Regions from separate parts of the Homo sapiens genome. Here region 1 is linked to region 2. Evidence: fine-mapped QTL for protein levels in blood plasma. Region 2 holds a variant in brackets. A gene starts in the other region. All regions are shown on their forward strands.

Region 1 (16,112 bases), not on the chromosome of region 2:
GTTTCACTAATAAAAATCATTTCAGTTTCTAGCTAGTTTATGCATCAGTTTATGTATTAGTAAAGGAGTTGATTGATAAGACATATATATCTCATACATATGTCAGATATATCTCATATATTATCTTTTATATATATATCTTTCATTTGATCACATTTTCTTGAGGGGCTTTTCTGTATTTACCTCTTCAACATTACAGTCAATTATTTGGTCTCTTTAAAAAAAGGGTTACAATTCCTCTACAGTGCATTAACTCCTATGAGAAAATAATGTTTTCTAATTAGTTTTACTCTCCTATATGCTATTATATCAGTATAACTCTCGAATACTTCTGAGACTACTAACATAGATGCAATAAATAAGATTTATTTTGTATTACACTATATTTATGAATATGGTTAAGCATGCCAAATGTCTCCTAATTACTAAATACTTAATACAGCAGGTCCTCAAATAACATCCTTTTGTTCAACATCATTTTGTTCAATGTCCTTTCATCATAACTTTTTTTTTTGTTTTTAAGAGACCAGGTCTTCCTATGTTGCCCAGGCTGGAGTGCAATGCCCTCATCATGGCTTACTGCATCCTTGAATTCCTGGGCTCAAGTGAACCTCCTGCCTCAGCCTCTGGAGTAACTGGGACTACAGACATGGGCCACCACTACCAGCTACTTTTTCTTGTAGAGATTAGGTCTATGTTGCCCACGCTGGTGGCAAACTACTGGCCTCAAGTGATCTTCCTGCCTCAGCCTCCCAAAGCGCTGCGATTAAAGGTGTGAACCACCACGTCCAGCCCATTATTAACTTTGATGAGAAAAGAAAATCATTTTCAAGCTGGGGTCACTGTCTGTGTGGAGTTTGCAGGTACTCCCCATGTCTATTGGGTTCTCTGGGTACTTGGATTTCCTCCCACATCCCAAAAATGTGCATGTTAGGTTCACTGGTCTGTCTACATTATCCCAGGATGAGCAAGTGTGCGAGTGAGTTGTGGGTGTAGGTATGAGTGCACCCTGCGATGGGATGATGTCCTGTCCAGGGTTGGTTCTTGCCTTGTACCCTGAGCTGCCAGGATAGGCTCCAGCCACCTGAGACTGAAGTGAAGTAACTGGGTAAATAATTATCTTGTTTTTATTACTCTTTCTTAAATGTGTTACAGCTCACATTTATTTCATTAATTAATATTAGAAGTGTTTTTGTCTTTATTTAGAAGTTTGGTGATATATGCTACAGAAACTTAGCTCTTGTTTATATCAATTACCCTATGGTAAAACTGGTTTCATTATGTGTTGTTTCACCTAAAGTCACAGTTTCCAAGAATCCATCAACGATGCTAGGTGACCTATAAGAATTATATTTATAGTTAACAATGTATATCCTATTACTGTGACTATGAATGTATAAACTTTTGTTTCTAGAACCTTTAGAGTAAGAGTGAACTCTATTAGGAAAGCTATGACTTCTAGACAGAATAAATTATAACAAAGTTCAACCCTTATCTGCTCTTTTAAAATCTGTTTTTCTACTCAAAACTAGAATGGGCTACCATTATACTTCCATTAATATTATTTATTTAAAAAATCTATAGAATATGGACAAAAGTGAAATACATGAGATTACTACAAGCATGCATTTCCTTAGGAAAGTTTTGCTCTTACCAGTTTTTATAAAGACTTTTTAAAAATCTTACTATAGAAGACTAGAATACTGATACACATGGTAGGAATTGCTCAGCAGCAAAACAAATAGAACCCGGCTCCTCTGTACTTTGGCCAACGCTTAAGTAGCTCCAATTCTATATGTTATGAGGAATCCTGAATGTCCTAATCAAACCTGCTCTCTAATCAAGACTTTATTTCCAGACTTTATAATCTGATATTACTCATAGATACAATTTTTACATTAAAAGATAACTTTTTAAAAAAATAGTATATTTTAAATAAAATCCCTACAACTGTCCACAACAGAGAGATGGCCAAAGAGTGACTGGCAGAACTTGGTGAAAGAGACACTGTTCAAAAGGCCCAGTCACATCTTTTCCTCAAGAGCTGTGCTTTCTAATATCCAGAGCACAGCAAGAACAGAAGTTGAATAAGCAAGAAAGACAGTAAAAGATAAAACCCAGCCCTTTGCATCTTAAAAGCATGCCTAATTTTGGCATTCATTTGGGTTTCAGAAAAGTTCTGTCAAAGGTTCTAGTGTCTCTTGGTATGCTGTTTCAGGAATACAAAATTCACTAATATAATAAGCCATAATTTCAGCATGTTGTCCAGTGCATTACAAAAAAATTTAAGAAAACCAAGATTATTTTAATCACACAAATGAATCCCCACAGTAACCTCAATCTTGAATCAGTCTCTAAAGTAACCAAGTCAATTCACTATAACTATTAAGTCTACCACTGAAACTAAAAACCGATTTTTTTAATATTGGAAAATAAGCAGTAACATGTAACACCTATCATATCACTAATACAATTTCATCCAGAATTAGGATTCTAGATGGAATTGGTTAACAAAAGAGAAATTCTTAAAAATAATTCCATCTTAACCAAAAAAGCAGTTTCTAATAACCCAAAAATACATTATAATTACAAATAATAATTCTAAGTTAGCTAAGAGTTGGTAATTCTACTACTAATGCTTTTTTATTCTGTTCACTCTGCTGTTTTAAAAGTGAAATGCCTATTAAATTACAATGCTTAGAAAAAGGTGAATTAAAAATGGGAATTTTCAATGAAATAATTCAGGATTATCTACCTTCTGCTTAGATATATGCTATATTAGTCTCGGCTGTGCAAAACACATATATGCTAGAGTTAACATTAGGCCTGTTCTTTCCCTGCTAGAGTCCCTGGAATCTAGAATAGTTAAACTGATTAAGCATTAAAGCTGGAAAGACTGTGGAGTTATCTTGTCTGACCCTTCATTTTCAAATTAGAAAAGTGAAGTTCAGGAAGGGAGAAATGGCCAGGCACAGTGGCTCACACCTGTAATCCCAGCACTTTGGGAGGTTGAAGCGGACAGATCACCTGAGGTCAGGAGTTCGAGACCAGCCTGGCCAGCATGGTGAAACCCTGTCTGTACTAAAAATACAAAAATTAGCCAGGGGTAGTGGCACACGCCTGTAGTTCCAGCTACTTGGGAGGCTGAGGGAGGAGAATAACTTGAACCTGGGAGGCCGAGGTTGCAGTGAGCCGAGATCGTGCCACTGCACTCCCGCCTTGGCGACAAAGCAAGACTCTGTCTCAAAAAAAAAAAAAAAAAAAATTCCTGTTCATATTCACAATGTATGGTAGCAGAGCATGGACTAAAATTCAGGAACTCCTAACTTTTTCATCAGGACCCCTTTCTTCCTCTTCAATTAGCAGCCAGGGAGGCTCAGGCTGCCCAGACACTCCCCAAAGAGATACATTCAAGCTGCTCCTTAACTTTTAATTTACACACCTATAATTAACTGACTTTAAAATTGTTAATTTACCTAAGTCAAAACAAATACAATATAGAGCTGAAAATTTTACTCTAAATCCTCCCTGCCAGTAACAGGAAATCTAAACTGAGCACTGAATAGTATTCATAACAACTTTCTTTCATATGCTCCTCCAAACTCCCAGAATACTTTGTGTCATGGACTCTAAGTATTTTCCATAATGATTGAATTACTCTTTGAAATCCTTGACTAAGCCCATTTTACAAATCTAGACATGAAGGCTGAGACTAGTTAAGAAATGTCCCTGTATTATATATATAGAGCTAAGAATAACCAGAAGTAAAATTCATAACCCAACCCTGTTGGACTTTTCTGAATCTCTTCTTGTGCTTACAGCTACGCTGCGTCACATACATTTTTGTGCTCATCTTTTTCCTCTATACTAGACAAAGGTATCTTCTCATCTTTGTATATTCCAAATCCAGTGAATTTTAACTTTTATCTTTCCTTACTACTCAAGGTGAAATACATTCCCGGTCTAAACTTTCCACCAACAGTGCCTTACTCAGGCCATCATCAATACAATGATCCCTCTAAGCATATCCTTCCCTGTATGCCTATGTAAGAATCCCTACCCAACAGGTCTGATTTAGAACACAAACAAACTACTGTTAGACAACTGTTACCACCTATATTAGTTCAGCAGCACAACTAAACCATTTCGGTCGCTTAATAAATGAAGACTAAAGTCCAGATACCATGTGCATTAGAAACTGAAGGGCTTAACAACCTAATCAAGCAATAAGAAACGCAGAATGAGCTCCTAAAAAATAAACGAGTAATTATAATTATTCAATCAATCAATAAGTATTCACTGATCTGGGAGCCAGAAGTTACAAAAATTATAGAAGACTACCTAGGCATAAAGTCTATCTCCAAGAATTATATATAGTGAGGAAACAAAAAACTAAAGAAAATAAGCAAGTTAAAACAAGTGCTGAGGAGTTAAAGGAAATAAAGATTAAGGTTGATTAATAAAAATGGCTTAAGTATCACTAAATCTTGAAAAAACAAACCAGGTGAGTATGGCAGGGAAAGATAATGCTCAATAACATTATCAGCCCCAATCCATATAAACCAGATATGGCTGTAGAGACGTAGTTTAATGTTTTATTTTTTCCTATTCCTTAGTTTCTCACTTATTCAGGACTATATATGTTGAACTTCACTTAGCAAAACTGCACATACTCTTTATATAAAATTAACTGAATCACACTACATGAAAGGCAACAGATCTAACTACAAAATAAGACCTAGTAATCTTGTTTATAACCTTCTCATTCTCCCTTCATAATACTACCAGCTAATGAATGGCATCAGAACTATTTATGTAAAAGTACATATCATGTATTTATGTATTACAATGAAATCTCAATTTCCACAAAATGAATTTTTAGAAACTGTGGTAAAACAAAAGATTTACTGATGATCTGCCTCCTCCATGAAGCCAATCACCAATCCAGAGTCTCATTAACATTTAGGCATATTTGCAGCGAATGAGAATAAAAATATGTTTCTGTGTACTTTTTCTGCTGGTGGTTATAATGCCTGCCTTTATTGAAACTCCCTTCCCTCACCTTCTATATATAACTGGGACTAATTTCTGCTGGAGACTTTAATTGTTCTTGAATTCCCAAAGTACTCTCTTAATTCAGGCCCTCATCATATTTCACCTGCAATACTATAAATCAACTATCTGATTTCCCTTGTCTTTCCCTCACAATCCTCAATCCACCTTCTATACTGCCTCCACCTTTCCCCTGAAAATTTTCTAAGTCAAATATGATCTTGTGAGTCCCCATTAAATAGTGCAATACTTCCCCAACTGTATCTCCTTCTTAGTTGTGAAATGTACACTGGTATCTTCAGCGGTGAGAGAAATGCTGTACTAAAAGAATTTGGTTTAACTTAATTTAGCTTCAATTTGCAAAATATAGACCAAAAATTGAAGAAAAATCTATTAAGATTTCCAATGTGCTCAAGGATTATCCTATCAGACAACGTGGACTTTAGCAGTGGTTTTCAAACTGTGATATACTTTAGAATTTTCTGTCAAGCTTGCTAAAAATAGACATGTCCAAGCTTCACCTCAGATCCAGTGATTCTGAGTAATATCTAGGAATTGGGCCTAGGCATATGCATTTCTCATAATCTCCACAATGATTCCAATTCATACCTAAATCTGAGAGCCCAAGCAGAAGCCCTCCTTGCTCCCTAACAAACCTAACAAACTTATTAGTAGGTCTCCTAACTTTTCAAGCTGTTTCATACCTCTCATCAGCCTAGGGAGTACCTGTTTAAATATAAATAATCAGTTATCCATTTTAAAAAGCTTTTAATCATCCTCTCTCCCACCATTCTCTCCTTTAATCCCCTAAACCTTTATAAAAATAGTTTCCATATATTTATACACAGTCTTAATCCACACAACTACCCCATGAGATAGTATCCTTGTTTTACAGATGAGAAAACCAAATCTAGGATAGGAAGCTCAAGAAACTTGTCCAAAGTGACCCCCAGTTTGAACCCACATTTGCTGTTACAAAGCCAAGGCATTTTCTACTGTGAAAAGCAGCCTCTTACACATCACTCTGAAGCACTGACTTATCAGTTTACACGTTTCCCTTTTTAGACCTAGTAAGCTCCCTGAGGACAAGTATCAGCCCTTCCAGATTTTGACCTCAACATTTATTCAATACATGTTTGTTGAATGAAAGAAGAAATGAAGCTCCTCCAGAGCTTCGACTATAACTGCTTCTGTTTCATTTCTTGAATTCTTAGGTAGAGCTCTGAGTACTGAGTATACTTCTGCCTAACACATTTGGTCTGACCTGTAAATCTTACTGCTGGATTTATTATGAGACAATATATTTCAGTAATGTTTTAAAGGACAAAAACAACCTGAATAATCAGCCAAGGGAGGAAAAGATTATTTCAAAAATTAAAATATCACTCTTACTTCACTCTCTATTAACTAGGGACTTCAAATATTGAAATTAGTATTTGCAACGACTTCATCCCACAAAAGCAGACAACTGAAAGTGTGGTTTTTAAATGACAAATTCAAAAGGTACAGTTGATTAATAAAAGATGGCATAAAGAAATTAAGCACTGAATACTGAGAGCCTATTCAGCAATCCACTTACACTAACCAATGTGCAACATCATTTTTCTCTATCACAGTATTTTTCCCCATCTGCCATTTTTCGAAACCAGTAAAACTACAGGTAAGCACAGAACAATTAGTATACTTGTGTATAAATGTAATGTCCTTTCTGCCTAAAGTTAATGTGTCTGGTATGTAGAACACAGCACAACTACTTCCTTTTTGATACAGGTTACATAGCTAATCTACTAAACCAGCAACTGAATTTTTTTCATTGGAGGTAACTAACATTCAAAGTGCTGAAGATTTTCCTAAACTGAGCATATGCAAACATTAGTGGTGCTTTAAGAATCTTGTATTTTAATTAGTTTTTGGTGAAAAAGGCAAAGTGGTTATTTCTTTAACACCACTTTTAGAAATAAATCAGTAACAGGAAAAAAAAATACCCTTCTAAAACAACATGATGTAGTGCAAAGTACAATGGGATAGGACTAGGTGTGAGGAGTCCTGGTTTTCTAGTTCTGGTTACATTATTAAATTGCTGTATGACTTGGGCTCACTGGATCAGTTTTCTCATTTGTTGAAAAAAGTGTGTGTGAATGGGGAGGGGCTTAAAGTTGTTACCCAAAATTCTCGTTTTGAGCCACTCCTCTTGTTTCATCCTTCTAATCAGGAAACTCAATGTTCTCTAAGGTCTAAATTCCGAAATATGAAACACATCTGAAATTGAATGGAACGATTCAATCTCCAACCGGATGGCACAAGATACAAAGGGTGGACTCCTATGAAGTTAACAATGAATCCAATAACTTTCCAGAAATTGTCTAATCCTAACTTCTTAAAGAAGCAGGTGAAATCTGGTTTGGCATACCTAATATTACTTAAAGGAGTTATAAAATGGTATTGCTTTGTTGAAATTTCCGTGTTTTCTGGGTTCCAGTGGCACATACTCTGCAGGTGCTAGCAAAGTGGAGAGAAAGGGATCCAGCCAGTATTTCAACAAACCACACTTCAACCCAGTCACCGCAGTATGATCCCGACAAGGCCTACACCACAGAGCAGAACCTCCCCACCCCCAGAATTGCCAGCAGCCAATGTAATGAATGCTTCCGTCAACAACACACATTCCCCTTCCCACAGCAGAACTGCTCGCTCCCAACCGGCCATCTGGGGTTGGAATTGGCCGCACAGCACCAAACTAAGAATCATTCTCGGCCCCAAAAGCCAAGAGCTACCAGAGATTGAGGTTTCCCTGCGCATGGCTGCGGGGAGAGCAGCACCCCCTCCCACCAATGGGGGGAAAAAAAAAATCAGTGGGAAGGAGAGTAGAAACCAGGCCTAGGCAAGGTTGCTAGAGAAATAAATCTTGTTTCTCTTTAACGAAGAGCAATAACATTTCTTGCACCCTCTCTAATCCGAAGAGAGCCCAGGCTCTTGCACTCGACTTCATTCCCTCCTGGAATCCTAATGGGAGATTAAAAACCACCTTCCTTCCCCGACCTATCCACTCCTCAAACCTGGCATTGTTAAGGAACGTACCCCCAGATCAAGCAGTAAGAGGTGAAGCGAGAGCTAGAACAAGGGCCCAGATTCTAGGACCAAGCGGCTCTTGCAAGAAAATCCCCTTGTGGCCTGAGAATAAAGTTTTAACCAGCAGCAAGGGCGCGGGCCGAGGCCCGGCCAGGCTGGAGGACAGGCCTGCGGAGGTGACACTCCCTTATTCTCCAGCAGCTCGGGAAGGCGGCGCCCGACCGCCACGGCCCGCACCCTGGGAGCAGGGCGAGGGCGCCGACGAGGGGCCGGGGCCGGGGCCGGGGCTGGCGGGAGGCCTGGCCCGCGCCGCTCCCGCCTCCTTCCCCACTCCCACTTCCCGGCCCCCAAGCCCGGGCCCGTGAGGTAATGTCACGGGTGGCGACGCGGGTCTCGTCCACTGACCACACATTTCTTGCCGAGGAAAGTGAAGAGGGACTCGTTCTCCTGCGGGGTGAGCAACAGGGACCCCACGTTGGTGACCCTCCGCGGCGGCGGCGGCTGCTGCTGGACGGAGCTCATGGTTTCGCCGGCGGGGTTGGGAGTCCAGGGCCGTCTCCTCCGGCGAGTGGGCGAGAGCTCGTTCCCCCTCTCGGTGACAGGGGCGGGGAGAAGTGGAGTCAGAGGCGCCACATCTCGCAGCTCCTCCGGAGCGGGGAGGAGGACGAGGTCGAGGGAAGCAGGCGCTGACGGCGAGCCACCTTCGCGCCGCGCTGAGAAAGGGAAGCTCCCGGCACCCGCCCGGCCAGGCTAGGGCCGGATGGTCGTTGTCCTCGCACTCCGGCGACTGCGCTAAACTCCCAACTCCTCCCCCAACCCTCCCGCAGCGGCGGCGGCGGCCGCACAATCCAACATGGCAGCGGGGGCGGGCGAGACCACAGGACGGAGGGCGCGGGGGAGCGCGCCGGAAACGCGCGGCTGCGGCCCGGGAGAAACCCCCCCACTCGGCGGCGGGCCTCGCGGCGCGGGCCCGAAGCCACGCCCCCTTCCGGCCGAGGCGCGGACCGCGCGGAGCTAAGTGGAATCCCGGTTGGCTTGGGGCGCAGGCTTCCAACTTCGTACTCTGGCCTCTGGCGTCTCGGCTCGTCGGTTGGGTACCCGAACCCAGCTACTGCTGCTTGAAGAGAAGATGGATGGGGACTCCTCGCCGTCGCTGCGCCGCCGGCCTTCCCTGGGCGGACGTACACCTTTGCGAAGCGTCAGTGAGGACCCAGGGCCCCTCCTTGGAATAGCTCTTATTTCTCAAGCGCTGCAGCGTGAAGCTCGCTCTGCGGGTCCGAGAGGCCTGCGATCTGAAGACTGAAAACTGGGAAGAGACGCTCTACCCTGTGCTCCTCGCCGGCTTCGATAGGAGCCGCAGGTGCCTGGGATTTTCTCAAACTTTGTCCCAAACTTCAGCTGTGGGAGTGGAGGAACAAACAGGCCTCTCCCAGAATTGTGAAAGAGATCGCCCTGGTGGATGAAACAAAAACAAATGCACTTGACTTCCACCGCCTGCCTGGCGTGTCACGCGGGTTTAATGTATGTGTCACATTTAAATTCAAAGTATTTTCTTCTAAGGGCCTGGACACATTTCTTTTCTCCCTGTATCGTGAATTGGAAAATACCTTAGGATATTAAAAGTTATCTAAGATAACCCCCTTTCTTCTGTAAGTTAAATACTAAACGGCTTAAGACGAAATTTTGGAATATAGAGATGATGATGCAGACTGCAGTGAATTATCAAATATGCATCTCACTGTTCTCCACATTAAACATATTTTTGTTGCGTAAATTCATGTTAAGACGTCTATAACAATTACACTTTGGTAAAATTGTTGGATGTTAACATCTCTGATAGCTCCCAATAGAAATCTCTGATGTACTAACCAGACTGGTAAACCATTATCATGCACTTTGAAAATATAATAAAATATTATAATTAAAGCTGCCATTAATGAAATAGGCTGAGCAACAATAAATTTACAAAGGAAAATAAAAGTGGATAGCCTTGGGAGTTCTCACATAAAATATGGAGATTTCAAAGTTAAACTTGATTAATTATGTTAGGGTAAAAAGTGAATTAAAGCAACAGGACTATTTATAAAATAATTAGATTTAGAAAGCAGTCGTAGAAATATAAGCCTGGAGTTGCCTCTGAATTACATATTTAACAAACCTAGAAGCTAAATCAGTTTGTCTTTTATCAAAACTGCAACTCCTCTAAGTTGAAAGCACAGTGACAAGAGAAAGCATTACAAATTCTTGAGAAATAATAGAAATTAAAGCTCTTTTCAAACCTGTGAACAAGTATAGTACCAGAAGTATAAGATTCAGATAGGCCCAAGTTGTAGTTCTTGTTATGAGTCTTACAACCCTATGGACTTTGGACAAATTACTTCTCTGCGTCTGTTTCCTCATCTGTAAAATGAAAATAATTTCTGTTTCATACAGGTATAGTCTAAATAGGGATAATTACACCTACTTCAAAGTTGTAAAATACACAATTACAACTAGATAGGAGGTATAAGTTCTAGTGTTCTGTAGCACTGTAGGATGACTATAGTTAACAATATTGTATAGTTTCAAATAGCTAGAAGAAGGATATTGCATGTTCCCAAAACAAAGACATAAGTTTTTGAGATGATAGATATGCTAATTACCCTAATCACTATATGTTATATGTATTGCAACATCACTATGTACCCCCATAAATATGTACAGTTATTGTGTATTAAAATTTTTTTAAACTAAAATTATAAGACATTAAAAAAAGGTATCACATGTAAAGTACCTGATACATAGTGGTTACTCAAGTATTAGTTGTCGGCCATTGACAGTCCTTGCCTATGGTCTTTTCTGCTTTCCCTGAGCTAAGGGATCAAGACTTAATATATGTATTCTTACCTTTGTTCTAATTCTGACTCTTCAAAAACTGTCCTTCAAATATACAATTGTACATATTTTTTCAAAAATATAGTGAAGAACTTGATAGCAGAATTTCTGATTAGGCCATATATTATATCAAATAGGCTACATATATCCCAGTATGCCAAAATAAAACTTTTTAAAACTGTAAATCCAGAGATAGAATCCTATTAGCTTCTAATTTAATAAAAACTGAAAGATTAGCAAATTTTATGTTAGAAATACCAGCTTTTAGAACTTGTAGACCACCAAACTATTTTGAAGACAGGAAAGAGTAGTGGGAGAGGGCTGTGAAAAAAAAAAAAAAGGCCATGAGATGATAGGTGAATGGACAGTAGCTGCGTTCAAGAATTTATCTCATTCTGAGAATTATTGAGTTCCAATCATTTCACAACCTCTTACTAGCCTAGACTATCTATTGTTTTGATTTTCTTTTCTTTCAGGAAATTTTATGACTTATCTAAATGCAATTTTCTTTTTACTATTTGCCCTTTTTCTGTTTTCTTTAGACTTGGAGATGGAAAATGATGACCACAGTAGACTTTTTTCCTCAGGTCCAACCTTTCTTTAATTTTTCTCCAAATTTTTAGTATAGTCCTTTGTCCACAAAATTGCAATTTAAGTTCTTGTCTTCTACCCTCCATTGTTATTTTTGTTTTTCTCTGGGCTTTTTCCAACTCTTGATGTGGAAAATGTAAGCATGAACATTTCACTGGAAATATGACTTCCTTACTCATTTAAGCCTGTGAACAAGCAATATTTGGGGATTCCCTCCTTACCATACATAAAGGATTCTATTTTTCCATACTCATCCTGAGACCAAGCAGTACTGGCTGTTTTTGTTTCAAAAGTTTTAGCAAGTCCTTTCTTTCATTCTTGATAGCATATCCTCTGTTTGGCAGAACACAAGACATCTTTTCTCTCTGTTTTCTTTGGCAAGTTATTTCCTTATCTCAAATTTTTTTACCCAGTTTGAGAGATTGGATTTTATCCAGGACATAAGCATTCTGTTTCCCTTCAACAGAGTATCTTGAAGTTTGTAAGCGCTGTTAAGAAGACTAGGGGTTTTATCTTAATATACATATAAAATGCATATGCTAGAAATACCAGCTTTCAGAGCTTGTAGACCACCAACCTATTTTGAAGACAGGAAAGAGTAGTGGGAGAGGGCTGTGAAAAAAAGCTTTATTACGGTGTATATGAATATAACAAAAAAAAGGCAATTCTTACATTTAATTTCTTCCATTTGACTCTCCTTACCTCAACTAGCATCTATTCTAGTACTTCATTTTCTTCTTTCTTTGGTATGATCTTTTAAGGTAAAGCCCTCATTTTAACAGAAAACATTAGGGTAGCTTATTATGGAAATGAGAGCATATTTTCAGATACATTCCTGCTGTTATCCTTATGGGTACTTTGCAAGCTTCTCTTGTTACGGTTCTTTGTTATATATTTTTCTTCTTTACAAATGTCATTGTTTATGTACTGTTAAAAGTCCTCTGAAACACCCTATTCCCCTTGCTAATGTTAATAATTTAAAATGTAGTGACACCCTTTACTGTGGGGGAATATAAAGGTGGCTGAAAGCACACGGCATTCAGCAGCCATTGTAGCCATAATTGCTGCTTGGCTATGGCAGAACTGATTTTATAGAGACAGAACAACAGCAAATCTGAATACTGCAAATCTGGATTTGCAGAAAAAGTGCAGGGGCAATGAGTGCTACTTCTCCCATGCAACCTCCAGAAATGTCATGTGTCTAAAATGTTCGTCTTGTAAAATATCTGCACATTTTTATGTAAATGTTGCATATGGCAATGCTTACAAGAATTTATTCTAGTACATGTTATCCCAAGTTAAATGTTAATTGTTTTCTTTTTCATCAACTAAATTCTGAAAAGTAAGCTAGCACACCATTTTTTTTCTGCCTCTCCTTTTTAAATTCATTTTAACTACAAACCTCTTTGGGGCTTTCTTTTTTAGGAATAAATAGTTTATTTACAAATCATTCTGATTTCTTATTGAAGTTAGTGGAAAATTGAACACTTATTCATGCTACAAAATTACCAGTGATAGTTACTACCATTATATGTCCTAGTCTCCAAATACCTAGTACTTACCTGTAATCAAGAAATGATTTGAAGAGCTAAGTATGTTATAGTTCCCAGGATGCTGCTTATGGTTTTCTGGCTGCTCTTTAACTTTAATGAATATTCAATGGCTTATTATTATTCCAAATGAGAGAGAACAACATTGATTTCTTTATTGTAATGTTCTCAAGGTCAATCTACATTATAAATGAGTAGGCAGGCTGGATACTTGGGAAAATTTGAAGATGCCACATGTCCCCATTACCACATTGAAATTATTGGGGTCAAGGATATGGTCTCTGCTACCATGTAACATTTTTAAAATCAATTTTTATTTTTATACAAATGATAAATGCACATAATTTAAAAAATCAAATAGTAGTACAAAACTTAAAACAGCATAAAACAGAAGTTACATTCTTGGACCACTTTAACTTTGTTGGATTTTACCCCCCTCAATAATTTGCTTAAATTTTATTTCTTTTATTTCTTCTATATTAAGAACTATAAAGTCCTTCCTCATATTATTTTCCACATAATCAAGTGTATCAGGAATCTATTAGACTCACTAATTTTAATCAAAGACCTGTCTCCCAAAGCCATCCATCATCCCATATTAATCTGTACTGTTGCTACATGGCTATTGTCTGGAATTTTATTGAGTTACTATCCTGGGATTTCCCTTTATCTTTCTGTATTAGACCCTCTGTTTCTTGGAACCTATGTCATCCATCTTGATGTACTCCCTTGTTTTGATAGTGTATATCCTTTAGTGGCTTCCTAAGAAAAAGTGCATAGATAGTAAAATTTTGAGACCTTGCATAGCTGATAGTTTTATTCTAATCTCACTCTTGGTTGATTAGTTTAACAGGGTAGAAAATTTCAGGTTGAATACCAGTTTTCTTCAGTATTTGAAGGTGTTATTTTATTGATTTCGAACTTTCAACATTGCTGTTGAAATCTGAAGTTATTCTGATTCTGATCTTTTGTATATAAGTCTTTATGACCTCTAAAAGTTTTCAGAATTCTGTTTGTTTATGGAATTCTGAAAGTTGATGATGTACCATAGTGGAATACTTTTACATTTATTGTACTGGGTATTCCAAAGGCCCTTTTTATCCAAAAACTCATGTCTTTTAGTGCTGGAAATTTTTCTTTTGTTATTTTCATATTTTTCTTCCCCTTTTTTCTCTTTTCGCTTTCTGGAATGCCTGTTGGTCAAATGTCAGATTTTCTGACTCATTCTATACAATTAGAAAGCACACCCAAGTTTCACTGTGGAACTACTCCAGTGAGCCCTTCAGTGTGGTCATCTCTGGGCAGAGATACTATAGATTTACTGCTAACATTGGGAATTGGAAACTAGAATCTCTTCTGAGATTCTAAAAGCAGGGTGTTTCTGCTGCCATCCTTGCTGCCCTTTGCCACATGCTTCTTCACTTTATGTGTTTTCAAATCACAGTTGCCCATGGGTGTGTCTGATGAGGGAAAGGTCACATACCTGTACCCTAGCTGCAAAAGAGCTGGAGATTTCAGGCTCGTTGTTAAGGGTCTGCGGATTCATAAGGTCAGAAATTCCATGAACACAGAAAAAGTATTCAAAAGGTACTCAGCAGCTAGTGAATTCAACTGGGGACAGTTGGAACTTCAGGATGTTTGATGACTGGGGAGAGGGTCTTTGTTAAGAAAAAGCAATAATATGAAATATTAATGCTTTCCAATTTTATCAAGATGATAGCATTTTTGTGTACTGAATTACATGCATATTACATACATAATAAAATTGTAAAACTCTGTATCTAGGAAGTAAATAGTCTTTATTTATTTTTGCCTCCATACAAAGTCTTTAATAAGAACTGTGTTTTTCCCCCACATTAACTAGGTTACTTGTCCTTAGAAAGTTGGTAATGGTTGAATGGGTTAGTACTATATGTTCATACACGTTGATATCATTTATCTATAAATAGCTATTTAGCTGATTCATTAAAGCAAATTGAAGTAAGTCATTTTGATATAATAAATTGTCAAAGTCAGTGATATGCAGGCTTTTCATTTGTAAATTGTAATTACTTTTTAAATGTTTGTCTCCTACATTAGCCTCAAAGCTCTCTAAGAGCTGGTATCATGTCTTATTCATCTTTGTATCTTTTTAGTCTTAACATTGAACCTATACATTATTCAACGTATATTTGTAGATCAAATGACCACCTTTGATTCAAATAAAAACATATGAATTTTTATCAGGTACAAAGATAGTTACACAGGATCTGAGATCAAATAAAGAGAAACCACAGTCTTGCCCAAACTCTTCCACACAGTACTAAGCATGTGGTATTCTGAGAGCACCTGGAGAGAAAACACAATACATAAGAAACTGCACACAACCTAATGGTAGCAGGAGCAGGGCTTGTGACAACAGCAATAGAAAGGAATGACCTCCACTTGAGATGACCCAGCAACCTAATTCAAGTCCAGAGGATAAAGTGATTTTTTTTTTTTCCTCCTGAGTGAGCTCAGGTGTCCAGGGGCCTAGTCTGAGAAAAGAAATGTGTGTCATATTTTAGGGATTTGGGGGAATAATAGTTTTTAGCATGAAGTGATTGCAAAAACACTAAGTCAAGGCTTCACTTGGTCTTAGAAAGCAACTCTGGAAGCATATGGAAGCAAGCTTAGTATCCAGGAGCGTTGGAAACTAAAGTGAAAATAACCAGGACAAAAAATAGGCTGGCATCCCAATGGACTGGGGGAGACTGGCCAGCAGTTCTCATAGCAGCATTAGCATCACATGTTAGAAATGCACATTCTCAGGCCCCACTCTTGACCCACTGAACCTGAAACTCTGGGGATAGGACTCATCAGTCTATGTTTTAAGAAGCCCTCCTGGTGATTCCAATAAGTAGACCTTCAAGACGACCTCCAGGGGATGAAATTTACCACCCCCACCAGCCACCTTCCACCCTTTCCCAAGCATATAAGGCTTATGGCATTACACAA
Region 2 (15,487 bases):
ATGATTGCCATTTAACATCAAAATCACAGTTATTTATCTAAAATAAATTTTAATAGCTGAATCAAGAAAATCTCCTGAGGTTTATAATTCTGTATGCTGTGAACATTCATTTTTAACCAGCTAGGGACCCAATATGTGTTGAGTTCTATTATGGTTAGAAGTGGCTTCCGTATTCCTCAGTAGTAATTACTGTTTCTTTTTGTGTTTGACAGCTAAAGAAAAGAAGCCCTCTTACAACAGGGGTCTATGTGAAAATGCCCCCAACAGAGCCAGAATGTGAAAAGCAATTTCAGCCTTATTTTATTCCCATCAATTGAGAAACCATTATGAAGAAGAGAGTCCATATTTCAATTTCCAAGAGCTGAGGCAATTCTAACTTTTTTGCTATCCAGCTATTTTTATTTGTTTGTGCATTTGGGGGGAATTCATCTCTCTTTAATATAAAGTTGGATGCGGAACCCAAATTACGTGTACTACAATTTAAAGCAAAGGAGTAGAAAGACAGAGCTGGGATGTTTCTGTCACATCAGCTCCACTTTCAGTGAAAGCATCACTTGGGATTAATATGGGGATGCAGCATTATGATGTGGGTCAAGGAATTAAGTTAGGGAATGGCACAGCCCAAAGAAGGAAAAGGCAGGGAGCGAGGGAGAAGACTATATTGTACACACCTTATATTTACGTATGAGACGTTTATAGCCGAAATGATCTTTTCAAGTTAAATTTTATGCCTTTTATTTCTTAAACAAATGTATGATTACATCAAGGCTTCAAAAATACTCACATGGCTATGTTTTAGCCAGTGATGCTAAAGGTTGTATTGCATATATACATATATATATATATATATATATATATATATATATATATATATATATATATATATATTTTAATTTGATAGTATTGTGCATAGAGCCACGTATGTTTTTGTGTATTTGTTAATGGTTTGAATATAAACACTATATGGCAGTGTCTTTCCACCTTGGGTCCCAGGGAAGTTTTGTGGAGGAGCTCAGGACACTAATACACCAGGTAGAACACAAGGTCATTTGCTAACTAGCTTGGAAACTGGATGAGGTCATAGCAGTGCTTGATTGCGTGGAATTGTGCTGAGTTGGTGTTGACATGTGCTTTGGGGCTTTTACACCAGTTCCTTTCAATGGTTTGCAAGGAAGCCACAGCTGGTGGTATCTGAGTTGACTTGACAGAACACTGTCTTGAAGACAATGGCTTACTCCAGGAGACCCACAGGTATGACCTTCTAGGAAGCTCCAGTTCGATGGGCCCAATTCTTACAAACATGTGGTTAATGCCATGGACAGAAGAAGGCAGCAGGTGGCAGAATGGGGTGCATGAAGGTTTCTGAAAATTAACACTGCTTGTGTTTTTAACTCAATATTTTCCATGAAAATGCAACAACATGTATAATATTTTTAATTAAATAAAAATCTGTGGTGGTCGTTTTCCGGAGTTGTCTTTATCATCCTTGCATTTGAATATTGTGTTCAAATTTTTGATTGATTCATTCAGTATCTGGTGGAGTCTCCAATATTAGAAATACTGGAAACAAACTGAAAAACCACAAAAGGACAAATAATGCTTCATGAGTCAGCTTTGCACCAGCCATTACCTGCAAGTCATTCTTGGAAGGTATCCATCCTCTTTCCTTTTGATTTCTTCACCACTATTTGGGATATAAC[G/A]TGGGTTAACACAGACATAGCAGTCCTTTATAAATCAATTGGCATGCTGTTTAACACAGGTTCTTCACCTCCCCTTTCTTACCGCCTGCTTTCTCAGCTCAACTATCACAGGCATTACAGTTGTCATGGCAACCCCAATGTTGGCAACCACGTCCCTTGCAGCCATTTTGATCTGCCTTCCTGAAATATAGAGCTTTTCCCTGTGGCTTCCAAATGAACTATTTTGCAAATGTGGGGAAAACACACACCTGTGGTCCTATGTTGCTATCAGCTGGCACACCTAGGCCTGGCACACTAAGCCCTCTGTGATTCTTGCTTAACCAATGTATAGTCTCAGCACATTTGGTTTCCACTTAAGGTTTCCTATTTTTGACCTCCACATCCTGTTATTGTCTTTTGCAGTGATTCTCAGTGTGGTCAGGGACCACCTGTAACTGAATCCACTGGGTCACTTACTAAAAACACCAATTCACACTTATTCCCAGATGCGTTGAATCAGAATCTTTGAGTGGTGGGGCCAGGAGTTTGTATTTCCAAAAATCTTCCCAGTGCTTCTTATACCCATCAAGTTTTGAGAATCACTGCTTAGGCAACTCTGTCTGTGTCTCTTCCTCTGTCTCTCCCCCTTGCTCATTCTCTTGCTTGCTCTTGCTCTCTTTCTCTCTTTCTTGCCCCAGCAAGTGCTAACAAACACACAAGACAGCACATAGTAAGCATTTCAAAAGGGGTTGTTAAAAAAAAACGAATAGGTCTTTCAAAGTAAGGTAATGATTATTACCTAGAATGAGCTCCTTTTCTGTGGAAGACTGTGCTTCTTGCTCTCTAGGCCTTTGGATGGTAGCCATGAAGAAAAACACCAATCAGGAGCCTCAGTGGATAGTATATCATTTCCACTCCTCTAAACATCTTTAGAGAGATTACTCTTTTTCATAGTTGATGGGCAGATCTGAGTGACAGAGAGTGCCTTACACAAGTGATGCCCTCCAGGTACCTTTCAGACACCCTTAGATAATGGACTACTTTATATAAGCTTAATATTTCCTCTGCTATTGCCTAAAATTCTACCATTTGTTGTTCACTGAGATAAGACTTGCCCTCTTCATTCAGTCTCAATCTTATAAAAATAAAATACCCTTTAGCTCAAAAAAGCTTCCCCTATGGCAGAAGAATTGTACAAGAAAGACTATGACCCGGGGTTCCGCTGAAAGGGGAGAAAGCAAATATGAGGGTAAGGGAGTGCATCTGGGCACCAAATGAAAGCCTCTTCTAATTCCCATGTCATTTATGAGAGAAGATTCTATGTCTGTAGTACTCAGAGAGGTGAACTGCCCCCAAATCAGAGGACCAACTGTCACATGGGATTCCAACCTTCATCATCATCTCCATTTCTGGGATCAGGGTCCTGGGGCAGCTCCAAGCCCAAATAATCCATGAACCCAAAAGGGGCTTGGCCTACCATGCAGGGGGAGCCTGGGCGTTGCAACCCTCCTCCTTGGAACCACTTGTCACAGGCAAGACTGTGGATGACAAGGGAGCCGGATAGAGTGGCCAGGGGCTCCAGAGTCAGTTCCTCCTCCAACATGGCTCCTAGCACACGCCTCTGCTCATGTCTCTTCTTCAGCATGGTACTCGCATTCCTGCTACTTCCCATTTCTTCATTTCTCACCTCCAAATATTATAATCCTTCATTGTCACACCCATCAAGACTAATCCCAAATTTTGCCTCCACCGTCAGATTTGCTGACACTTTAAGCTCGTGGATTTCTCCTCTTTTGTTTCATAGCTATACTTGGTTTCACCTCTAATAATTTCAAGCATGCATGTCTTTTCTACCTAGTTAGATCAGGAACTTCTCCAAGACAGGGATAATCACAACTTTAGGCACACAGTAGATGCTCCAATAAATGAATTGAGGAGTTGGGGAACTAGGACATCCAGGACCGTTTTCCATACAGAACCCATCTGTGTTTTCTTAGGCAGTCCCAGCTTAATCTCTTTCCCATTTGATCATCAGAACTTTGTGCAGGTCTACTCATCTTTTGGCTTAAACCTTAAAGACTCTGGACTGTGAGTTCCAGCTGCCTACTCTGTCCCACTCATTCTACTTTGATCTTAATCCAGTCTTACTTCCAATCTTTTTCTTTCTTTGTTGAATTCTTATTTTTATTCTTTTTCTCTTTTGAATTGTTGGTTGTTGCTAAAATTGACTATATTTTTATACCCAGTCTGAGCCTTCTTCCGTATCCACAGTTAATAGTTCATTCAACTTAGTTGGGACTGAGCTCGTGAAACATTGATGTCACTGTGTTGTTAACTGGAGCAAAGCCAGTTGAGAAGTTCAAGACTTTATAAATTTAGTTATTCTTTTGGGAGTTCTCAAAGCAAAGGAGAACATGGCTTTCTCCGGAAAGTTATTCCCATTGCCTTACTTGTTGTTTGCACCTGGTTAGAGCCATGACTCAGGCTCCTTAGAAACCTTGTTTTATTTCATATATATATATTTTTTCTCATCTCAGGTCAATTTTTTCTGTTCAGTCCAGAAACATGACACACCCTATTGGTAAAAAGGGAGGAAAATTTATTCTTTCCTCTTTTATGTTTCCTTGGCTACATGCTGGGATAGGGGCTCATGGTAAGTTTGCCAGATTCAACCAAAAAACGCCACAAAAACAAGAAAACAGGATGCCCTGTATTTTATCTGACAACGCTATCAGCAGGAAAGCTTATGCTTCTAATGCAGTGTGAATAAAAAGTGTACTAGAGGCTGGGTGCAGTGGCTCACACCTGTAATCCCAGCACTTTAAGAGCTGAGGTGGACAAATCACTTGAGGTCAGGAGTTTGAGACCAGCCTGGCCAACATGGTGAAACCCTGTGTCTACTAAAAATATGAAAATTAGCCGGGTATGGTGGCAGGTGCCTGTAGTCCCAGCTATTCGGGAGGCTGAGGCAGGAGAATCGCTTGAACCGGGAGGCAGAGGTTGCAGTGAGCAAGATCACGCCACTGTACTCCAGCCTGGGTGACAGGGCAAGGCTCCATCTCAGAAAAAAAAAAAAGAAAAAGAAAAAGAAAAGAAAAGTGTACTAGAGACCCCTCTTCAGAAGTTTCTGAGCAAGAACAACTTGAGACTGTGACCACTGTTCCAACTGTAACACAATCTCCTGTTCTCACTTCCAGGCACATGTGGGATTGATGCTATGTCACTGGAAGCTAATGAGACCTGCAGAAGAGGTAGCTATTTCTCTTCTAAGCAATTTTCTTAGAGGAAGTTAACCCATCCTGCTGCATATTGCAAGGAACTTGACATTCAGACCCTTCTTGGAAATCTGCTTTCATGGGCACACTCTATGTTCTTGCATTTATTTCGTACAATAATCATCTGAAGCATTTGGAAAAAGTGCAGATTGAAGTTCCTCTGAACCAGAACTTCTCACTTATAAGGTCTGAGGCAGGGCCTGGGGATTTTAATTCTTCAGAGAGCCTTTAGGCCATAGTTCATAAGCTCTGATCTAACTCAGGATTCTACCATCATAGATGATTAGCAAAGGATATTGGAAATGATCCTCAGATTTTAGAAGAACATAAGGCTCGGAGACTTTAGGGACCTTGTCCAAGGTCCTATGGCGAGGCAGGACTTGAACTAGGCTAAGAAGTCAGATCTCCAGGTTTTCACATCAGGGCTCTGCAGAGGGTGGCACTGTGCACCTTTCTGACCAGGGGCTGTCCTTTCCAGGCTGCTTCTAGGACGTCCCTGCTACCACTCCAGGCCACCCACAGAAAACCCACTTTTCCATCCATCTCCATCCCAAGTACTCCTGTTACATCTCGGTGTGATTATCACCACTGTTGCTGCTCCAATGTTGGCTTCATCTTTTCTCTTTCTCCTGTACCCTTCCAGAGGACTTAGGAGAAGCATCTCAGGTGACCCAGCCTGTTCTTAGCAATCCTACAGAAAAATGCTGCAGGCGGACAACACAAAGCAAAACGCTGCCAATAAACAGTCTGTCAGCAAAGCCGGCAGTACACTGAGAAAGCTCCTATTGCCACTGGAAGTCGTGGAACAACCCATTGAGATGATACATGCTCTTTTAATCACACACAGTCAAGTTACTATAGCAACTAACAGTGTTTCAGAAACATGGTATTAATCACACAAAGTAATACTATCTATTTGGACAAAAAGAAGCAGCTTCCTCTGAGAGGAATTGTAAGAAATATATTTCAGGGGATGATCGCAAATTTTAGAAGATAACACAGATGACTTCTCATGAGCAGCACTTTCCTGAAGGACATCATCACCTTTTTCTTCCTGCTTGTCATTTTCTTCCTGCTTCCACCTTGTCATGTTAGCCGTGCAGCATGCATCCCACTGGTAGCTTTTCTCTTCACCTTGCTGAAAATGAGTTTTTCTGGCCAGGTGCGGTGGCTCATGCCTGTAATCCCAGCACTTTGGGAGGCCCAGGCGGGCGGACCTCTTGAGGTCAGGAGTTCGAGACCAGCCTGGCCAACATGGTGAAACCCTGTCTCTACTAAAAAAAAAAAAAAAAAAAAAAAAAAAAATTACCTGGGTGTGGTGGTGGGCTCCTGTAATCCCCGCTACTCGGGTGGCTGAGGCAGGAGAATTGCTTGAACCTGGGAGGCAGAGGTTGCAGTGAGCCAAGATCATGCCACTGCACTCCCACCTGGGCAACAGAGTGAGACTCTGTCTCCTTCTTTGTAGTTAGCGTGCAACTCAAACATAGTCTCTACTCTCCTGTGAGCACCTTTTTGCCCCTGGCATTATGGTAAACCATAGCAGTATGTTAAGGACAGGAAATATGGATTTGTAAATGAAGACTAGCCTTGTATTCCTTTCCTATTGAGGAAGCTGATTCACTAAGATATAGTTCATGAATTCCTTGTCCTGAATGAAGAGGGAAAGGAAACCAACTTATGAAGCCTCAAATACTGCACAAATGGATGTACATTAGCTAAAGCAATTCCCACAGTAACTCTGTGGAAGAGGTTCTGCCATCATCTCCATTTTATAAACGAGGAAATTAAGTTCCGAAAGGTTTAATTACTTGCCCAAAGCCAAACAGCTAGTAAGTTGCAGAATCAGGATTAGGACACATGTTTAATTCCAAAGACCATGTTCTTTTCGAATGACCATATCTGACTTCTGGGGGTTACTGGCAAAAGGAAAAGAGCAAAATGGAAGGTGAATGGGGATTGAAGTATTGGAGAAGTAATGCATGTATTACAGGGGTTACAAATGGGTGTTGATATATCAGCCAATGTTTTTTTGGACAAATATTTTAAAAAGCTTTCTGAAGGTGCTTATTTTGAGATTGTCACCAGCAGCAGCTCTCTCCTGTAACCAGAGAGGAAAACAGGAAGTTGAAGACATTCAAAGATGGACCACTGGCTCCAATCCACAGTTTTAGCAGTAACTAGCTGCTTTCCCATTTACTGGCGCTGAAGTCAGCGCTGCAATATTGCTGGCTTGCATGCCTTTCTGGCCCTAAGGTATCATAGGTTCTCTCACACTGATGCTTGGCTCAGAGATGGGGGAAAATGGAAATCATTAACACAGCCAGTGAGAAGCTCTGATCTTCATGACACCTGCAGCACGCTCCTTGCGAAGAGGGTGATTCTCCATTTGAAACAGGCTAGAGATACAGGACATAATGAACAATGGAAGTCAGTGGGAGCTACCTTGCATTCATATTTGTGAACTTTGGAATGGGGCTAGTTTCTAAAAGGGTAATAACCAGCCTGGAGCAGAAGCTGAGGGTGGGGCGTCGGGGGTGAAGAGGAGGGAGGGTCTCTGAGTTCAGGCTGAGGGATGCTGGGAAAAGGCAATGACTCCCTTTGAGGAAAAAAAATAGAGGGCAAAAGCAGACTCCAGGGCCTGAAGATGCCCCCAAATGGCAAATTAAGTGAACTGGTATACGGTGAAAAAAGTTATAGAGCTGGGTCCAATGCCACAGGCCACATAGAAGATTGAGAGAGGCTCTAGGCAGAAGCAGGGAGCTGGTCAGCCGAGATTGTGATGGAGGTAGCTATGCATAAGTAATTTCTACCAGAAGTTGAAGTGTAGGAATATCTGGGGTCAAAGCAAAAAAAGACTTTCCCTGCTGGGAATGGAAGTTAAAAGTAATGATTCCACTCTGAATCGCTGGGGGTGGAGGCAGGTGTGTGTGTGGTGTGTGTGTGGTGTGTGTGTGGGCACCAAGCAGGGGTGAAAGCTGATTATGGAGGGGTGGTGTCAGGAAACATCACAAAGGAACCCCTGAGTGCTTTAGGCCTAGGCGGAGCTGCGTAGCATGGACTGCACTTGTGCCAATTCGAGTGTTGATAGTGTTTGTAATTTGTGCCTGAGAAGACATGATTCAAGGATGGCATGAAAGTTGTGTGTAAGGTGTGAAGGGCTGTCACATGAAAAATAGATTAGATTTTCTTTGTGGGCTTCCTGGAGCACTCAGCGCTGGTGTTCCACAGAAGCACATGACGAAAGAGGGGGTTGGTATTATTTTTCTTCCTGTTTTAGGCTTGGATTCAGAGTCAGAGAGAGGGCATTGGACCCTGTCGTACTGCAGACTGGCCAGAGGCAGGCCTGTTGGATCCTCACTAACAGCAGCTGGTGGGTAAAGGAAGGCATCAGAGGACCTAGTTGGGCAGGGGCCTGGGGAAGTAGACCTGCTTGAATGACTAGCTCCTGCTGGCCTAGCTCCTCCTACGGCCTGCCTCTGAGACTTGTTACGGGTTCAGGCTCCATTCAGGCAGGCGTCACTGTGCACAGAGATCTACCTTAGCAGGAGGGTGCCACAGCAGGAAAGGATGTGGCAGGAAATGCCCAAAGCCAGATAGACGTTGACCTTCTGGTGGGTCAATCAGTTCACATTAGGATACCTGCCAACATTTGGAAGTACAGAGAATAGGATCCCACACTTATGGGGAGGCTAGGCAGGGTATCATGGAGAATTGGAATGCTGGGCCAGTAAACTGAGGCCAACAACTAGTTAAACCCCATAAACTGGGGAGGACTACCTCTTGGAGACTGAGATGGTTAATACTGAGTGTCAACTTGATTGGATTGAAGGATACAAAGTGTTGATCCTGGGCGTGTCTGTGAGGGTGTTGCCAAAGGAGATTAACATTTGAGTCAGTGTACTGGGAAAGGCAGACCCACCCTTAATCTGGGTAGGCACAATCTAATCAGCTGCCAGCATGGCAGAAAAATGTGAAAAGAGAGACTGGCCTAGCCTCCCAGCCTACATCTTTTTCCCGTGCTGGCTGCTCCCTGTCCTCCTACATCGGACTTGAAGTTCTTCAGTTTTGGAACTCAGGCTGGCTCTCTTTGCTCCTCAGCCTGTAGATGGCCTATTGTGGGACATTTTGATCATGCGGGTTAATACTTAATAAACACCCCTTTATATCTATCTATCTATCTATCTATCTATCTATCTATCTATCTATCCCATTCGTTCTGTCCCTCTAGAGAACCCTGACTAATACAGAGACGTTGCCTAGAGATATTGCCATAGGCTGGGTCACTGATCCCGGTTGTGTCCTAAAAATTCTTTTCAATGCAGTTCTCTAGGGAACCATGGATCATCATCACAGTTGGCACTCAAGATGTCATTGAGAATCTAGAGATTTTAAGCTACTTCCTGCCTTTTCTAAGACCCAGCTCACATGTCCCCTCTTCTGTAAAGCCTTCCTAAACCCTCATACATGGTTACTCTCACTTCATTTGGTCCTTTAATCATTTGGCTCTTATCACTCTGCGGTATCAACCTTTGTTTATGACCTTGTCGCTTCTCGAGATTGAGCTCACGGTGGGCAATGAGAGAGTGCTTACCATATTTGTCTACCCAAACCTTTAAAGAGGAAGATATTATTTCTATTTTTGTCAAATAATTTGCCCCAGATCTCATCGTAGTAAGTGGTAGAAATGGATTTGAATTCAAGTCAGTCTAATTTCAAACTCTGTGCTCTTTTCCTTAAATCTTGCACTCAATGTTGTACCCTTCAGCACATTGGCATGAGCTCAGGTGGCAGGAGAACAAAGCTGCATTTTTGAGCATAGACAGACGTAGAAGGAATTTCGTGGCTGCTCTAGAAGTAAAGTTCTCCTGCTATACCCTCAGAAATTTCCATCTTCTAGGCTGCATGCAGTGGCTTATGCCTGTAATCCCAGCAATTTGGGAGACCAAGGCAGGAAGACTGCTTGAGCTCAGGACATTAAGACCAACCTGGGCAACACGGCGAAACCCTGTCTCCATGAAAAATACAAAAATTAGCTAGGTGTGGGGGCATGCGCCAGCAACTCGGGAGGCTGAGGTGGGAGGATCTCTTGAGCCCAGGAGGTTGGGGCTGCAGTGAGCCATGACTGTGCTACTGCACTCCAGTCTGGGTGACAGAGTGAGACCCTGTCTCAGAAAAATAAAAAAATTCCATCTTCTGTGGTGCATTATATACACTGGGATCAAACTGGTCTTGATGAATCTGACTTTTGACAACCATCCTAACACTATTGGCTTTATTCAGTTGCAGCTGAACTATTTCTGTCTAACTTGGCTGCCTAACCTACAAACTGTTTCAAATCAGATGTCTTTTTTGTCTAGTGAAACTGAGAGAATTATTTTATAATCACGCTCTCTGGAAAAAAAAATAGTGAATGGAAATTTTTAATAAAAAAGAATGTGGTAGAAACAGAATTTTAAGTTACTAATTGGAAAACATGTGGCAAAATCTTTATCCACTGGCCTACAGTATTCCGCGGCCATCTGTGGAAATTTATAGGTATTAAATTAGATACGGGCTGGTTTTTGTGTTTGTAGAACGTAACAGAAACCTAATTGAAAACCACATAGCAACATCATAAAACCAAATGCGATCTCTATTCCTTTCAGTGTCAAAATGCATACACATGTGAAGACAATTACTTTGGTCCTTAAACAAAAAGACCTCCATTAATATTTTTATTAAATACTGCACATTTCTAAGAGGGAGATAGTTAAGAAAGTAAATGTAAGCATCTGTCTCAGAGTCTAAATTATATTCAAGAGTGATTGTAATAAGGACAAATGTTTAGCATACAAGGTTAGTCTTACTTTGCTTATATTCTGCTGTTTGAATGTTTTCCTGTGCATAGATTTACAAGTCTATGTTTTTGTTTGTTTGTTTGTCTGTTTGTTTTTGAGACAAAGTCTTGCTCTGTCGCCCAGGCTGGAGTGCAACCTCCACTTCCCGGGTTCAAGTGATGCTCTTGCCTCAGCCTCCCAAGTAGCTGGGATTAGAGGAGTGTGCCACCACACCAGGATAATTTTTGTACGCCAGGATAATTTTTGTATTTTTGGTAGAGATGGGTTTTCAGCATGTTGGCAAGGTTGCTCTCAAACTGATCACTGACCTCAAGTGATCTGCCTGCCTCAGCCTCCCAAAGTGCTGGGATTACGGATGTGAGCCACCATGCCCAACTTATGTTTAGTTATTTAAAAATTACTGGTCACTGGCCTTCCCGCAGAATCTAGAAAATGAGAGCAGAAGAGTTGCTTCATTTGACAAAAGAGCGTATAATATTTCCTGGGCTGAGGGAAGGAGGCTGGGCGAGGTGACCCTCTGGGATCCTGTTGGATGAGGTACCAGATCTGTGAATTGGAACTCTGTCCCTGAGAACACTTCTGTGAAGCCCTGCAAAGACAATTGTCAAGGGCAAGGGAACTAGTAATCCTTCCCTGGAGAACTAGGAGTCCTGGGTTCTGCTCTTGGCTCTGCCCCAGCAGGTCTGCCATTGCCTGGTGCTGTTTCTGGATTAGGCGCTGTTTAATAATCACCTTTGTCTCTTCCCGGATTGCTCCAGCCCAAGCTGAACTCCCCACTCCGGACTCATTCGCATGCTGTCTTGTAATGATGCAAATTGTGATTGTTTAACTCTGACAATTAAGTTTTTGTGCATTAATGGTACTATCTCCCTAAATATCTAATGAATTCCCCAAGGGACTTTTTTACTTTAGAGAGGCAGTGTAGAGTAGTGGTGAAAGCATGGCCTTTCAGCAAAAGGATTAGGGCCTAACCTTCTCAATGCACTATGCCTCAGTTTCCTCATCTGTAAAATGAGGTTGCAGGTTAAATGAGTTACTATATATGAAGTGCTTAGAATGGGCCTGACACAGGGTAAATACTATATAATATTGATATATGTGGTAAGTATATTACTATAGTATATTTTTATTATTTCTTTTTGACCCCTCATAGTATTTGGTTCAGTGCTTGGCATAGGGTTGTTCTACGTTTTTCCTACTTGCCTGCATTTCTTTTACCTTTTCTTTATTTTCCCGTCAGTAAATATTTGTTAGGCAAATAAGAGCCTTTGTAATGAGATGGATCCTGGTGAAAATGGAGGCTAGGTGGTTGAATTCACTATATCTGTTGGTTGTTCTCCCTTTGCTCCTCTAAATTGATTCTCTATCCCTGCTCAGTTCTATGCCTGGGGGAGCTGACCTAAATGGGCCACATCCCCTGCCAGCCCTGCCCTGTGGAAATCCACCCCCAGAAGACACAGCAGGAGATGAGAGAGTGGGCAGAAGAGTGGTTGGGATATTTCTTCCATTCATCTCTGCTTTGACACAGCATCCAGGGCTGTAGTTGTGTCCTTTCTTGATTACATCTTGAGTGGTCCGGCGGCCCCTCCTATCTTCCTGCCCTCACTGGGCTTTGGTGGTTGTTTTCCCGTTTCGTCTTAGACCTTGTAGAAGTAGGAGTTTCTGCTGGTGCAGGTTGCTGGGGTGGGGGTGGAGGGGGGTCTCAGCATCCACTGTTTTGCCTTAATCCTGTCCACTCCTCTATAAGCAGTTTTTTAAATTCATATTTCATCAGTCAAATTATCTGAGACGAATTCCATTTTGTGCCGAAATCTTAACCAAGACATTACATATTCCTGGAAATGTCCTTTTATGCCTCTGGGTCTCCATTTCCTCCTCTAGAGCAGAAGGGGGTTGGTCAGAATCACTGTCTCCAAGGTTTTTTCTAGGTCTGAGAGGCTACTGGGCTATCATTAGAATTTAGAGTGACTTTATGATAAACTGCAGAGGTTTTCAGTTACGAACAAGGTGAATTCCAATCAAGAACAAGTGTAGAGAAGTGGGCTTTGTGAAGAAAAGCAAATTACAGAAATACCAGGTAATAAACGCCTGACTGTGTGCAAGTGCATCAGCAAAAGACCCAGGCATGAGTAAGCAGTGTGTGATGTTGCTTGGAGGGGGTACATCTGGGTATACTAAGCAAGGTGTGATCTGTGGGAAGTACAAGGCAATCCCCTGGAAACGCTTGTCACTGTGCACACCAGGCCTGGATGCTGCGATTTGATTCAGCTCAGTAACTTAGAAGGCGTGAATTTAAGAAAAAAGAAACCTAAAGTTAGATTGGAATTGGAAAATGGCCTTTAGAAAGGTCAATTTCTTCTTTCCTTCCTCCTCTCTCCTTTCGTTAAGAGCCTGAAAACAGAATTAAGCAGTCCTCATTCATATGAGGGAACATCTCAAGTCCCTGTGTCTTGGAAATGAACTATGTTGAGCAAGTTGCATTTTAGTTAATCATACATGTAATCGTGGACATAAATTACAATGATCAGTAATTTGTATATTGTTAATGGGTTTGTCACTGGCAGTATTGAGGGTTCTTGAAAATATTTTCTTTTCAGTTTGCCCATTTTTTCCACTGTGATGGCTTAGACACTGAGGAATGACTGGCATAGAACAGGTTTTCATTGAATATCTCTAGTGGAAAGAGTACCTGATTAGTTAGAAGATGGCCATTTGAATAGCTGTTCCATTTTTTGATGTTAAACTCTTTCAATTGCTTGTAGGTAATAAAGGCCTGAGTATAGCGCTTATTTCTAAGGCATGCCTTTTAAAGTGGCTATGTTGGTTTCACAAGAAGAAATTGTAAAAGTAACAAGGTCTGGAGAAGAAAGATATCTGGCTAGCAAATAAAAATGGCTAGCTCTGTGTCCCAGCCCCATCACCAATTAATTGCCAGTTTCATGCAAGTTATTTAATCCCCTGGGTTTGAATTTTCTCACTATCCTCCATTTGAGGAACACATTTCTGTTTTAAAAGCATGTTCATGTGTAGTGCTGAAATGTAGTAGTCAAAGGAAATGGTAGTTTCTTTGGCCATCATAACTGTCCTAGAACTATGTAGTGCCAGGCTGATCAGGATTTATAGATAAGAGGGTCAAGGCTTAGGGATGTTAATTAACTTTGTTAAGAAATAGAGTTGTATTAGGGTGTTCTTACTCACTCAATCTATTTTCAGCTTCATTTTATTGTGATAGTATCTCTGTGATATATTTAGTAAGGAACATAAATGTTAATAGAATTATTGACCTGTAAGTTTTGAAATGAGCAAGTAAAATTATTCAACACAGCCTGTGTTCCTAGGTCTTTCTTGCTAGAATGTTAATTTTTATTGCTGAATGAAAGGCAAGTCATTTGATTTTGTAATAGATGCCCTTCCTTCCCCACTCCACACAAACCGCAGAGCTTTGCTCTCTGGAAAGAACTCAATATATAAGCTCCACAACAAGTAAGACTTGAGATGGCACACTTGGAACAGTCAGAATGAGTTTGGTGAGGTATGCTAATCAAGAGAGGAAAGGAGCACAATTCATTTCTGAATTGGTTATCAAATTCTTCTTGTAAGTGACACGATTGAAACTGTCAATTGGCTTTGCAACCTGCTGAGTCCATATTTCTACATCTGTGAAAGCTCAGCAAATGAGACCTTCTCAGCAAAGGAAGAGAGTTTCACCAGCAAGAAATTTCATGAGGTGTCGCACCCTGTGGCCAACCATTTCTCAAGAGACCTGTTTCTGTTTCACCTATCAAATTACCTTATGATTGACAGGCAGCTTCACTCATTACTCAGATTTCCTATCTCCTTGGCAAATCTGGTCACCACAATACTCTTTAAAAAACACGCTCATGTTATTAGTATGAAAACATTCAACACTAGAGCTTGTTGGGACTCAAAGAGTCCCCTTTCCCAAGAGCGGCCATTCAGTTTTCCCATGTTGAACCCTTATCAGGTAGGCCCAAGGACCCTTCTCTTCATCCCTGTTGAAATATTTTACAAAAGATTCTTCTCAATTGCATTCTATGCTGCCATTCAAAATCACAGGCTATCCGCACTACAAAATGATGCCTTAAATCAGATGCTGTACTAAAAATTATAACCAAGAAGCTCCATTTAAGTGGCAGGGTTTATTTAGCCATTTTTAGCGTTGTAAGATGGACAGAGGCATTTCTCTGTCTTCCATAAGGGAAGAGGCATCTCATGGAGGCCTATCAGTGTTTGAGCAATGTAGAGTTGAAGCTCATCCACTTACATTCAACCTTGAGATAGTCTTCTCTTTGAAGTCTTCTTCTATAAAATCTCTATAGATGTCTTCTTCTATAAAGATGTTTTGAAGAGTATGATGTGTTTAATATATGTGTAGGTGGCAAAGATCATTGAGAAAAAAATGATATGTGTTTAGTTTTTTTCTTTTGGGTGTTTTCTTTCCTTCCAGACATTATGTCTGTTTCAAACACACACTCCTAGTAGCAGAATAGCTACAGCTACATGAATAAACACATTGTCCAGCTGAAAGAACACTATTCAGACTGCTGAAAACAGAGCCAAGTTAAACAATAGGTGCATAGAAAGGGTAGAATGGCATTTTGCCACTTAATGAATTATAAGAAACAGATGTAAGTTGTTTAAAAGGACACATAGCCTGAATGTGGTCCATTTATCA

Direction of the effects. Positions count from the first base shown, and alleles are read on the strand shown. Strength reflects both the effect of a copy and how common the allele is.
In carriers of allele G in region 2, the plasma level of the protein whose gene starts at base 8,912 in region 1 tends to be higher than with A alone (weak association).

The links. A credible set is the group of variants that fine-mapping cannot tell apart. PIP is the chance, under the fine-mapping model, that this variant and not a neighbour inherited with it causes the effect. The UK Biobank Pharma Proteomics Project read protein levels with antibody pairs (Olink). The fine-mapping took linkage between variants from a reference panel, not from the people measured, so its PIPs are less certain.
Region 1: WASL starts here. The variant in region 2 is the best candidate, but not a certain one, in a credible set for the plasma level of the WASL protein (UK Biobank, PIP 0.69).

The regions. Positions count from the first base shown.
Region 1 is chr7:123,740,092-123,756,203 of GRCh38, forward strand. WASL (WASP like actin nucleation promoting factor) reads right to left here and starts at 8,912. Exons shown (of 11, transcript NM_003941.4): 1 at 8,527-8,912. The coding sequence starts at 8,643. WASL-DT (WASL divergent transcript) reads left to right here and starts at 9,104. Exons shown (of 1, transcript NR_170281.1): 1 at 9,104-10,890. RefSeq lists enhancers at 7,833-7,882, 8,642-9,296 and silencers at 8,325-8,414, 8,875-9,194.
Region 2 is chr2:203,872,496-203,887,982 of GRCh38, forward strand. It overlaps CTLA4 (cytotoxic T-lymphocyte associated protein 4), which reads left to right. Exons shown (of 4, transcript NM_005214.5): 4 at 213-1,470. The coding sequence ends at 317. Among named protein-coding and RNA genes, the nearest start is that of CTLA4, 12 kb to the left of the region's middle. The variant G/A (reference allele first, on the strand shown) is at 1,701.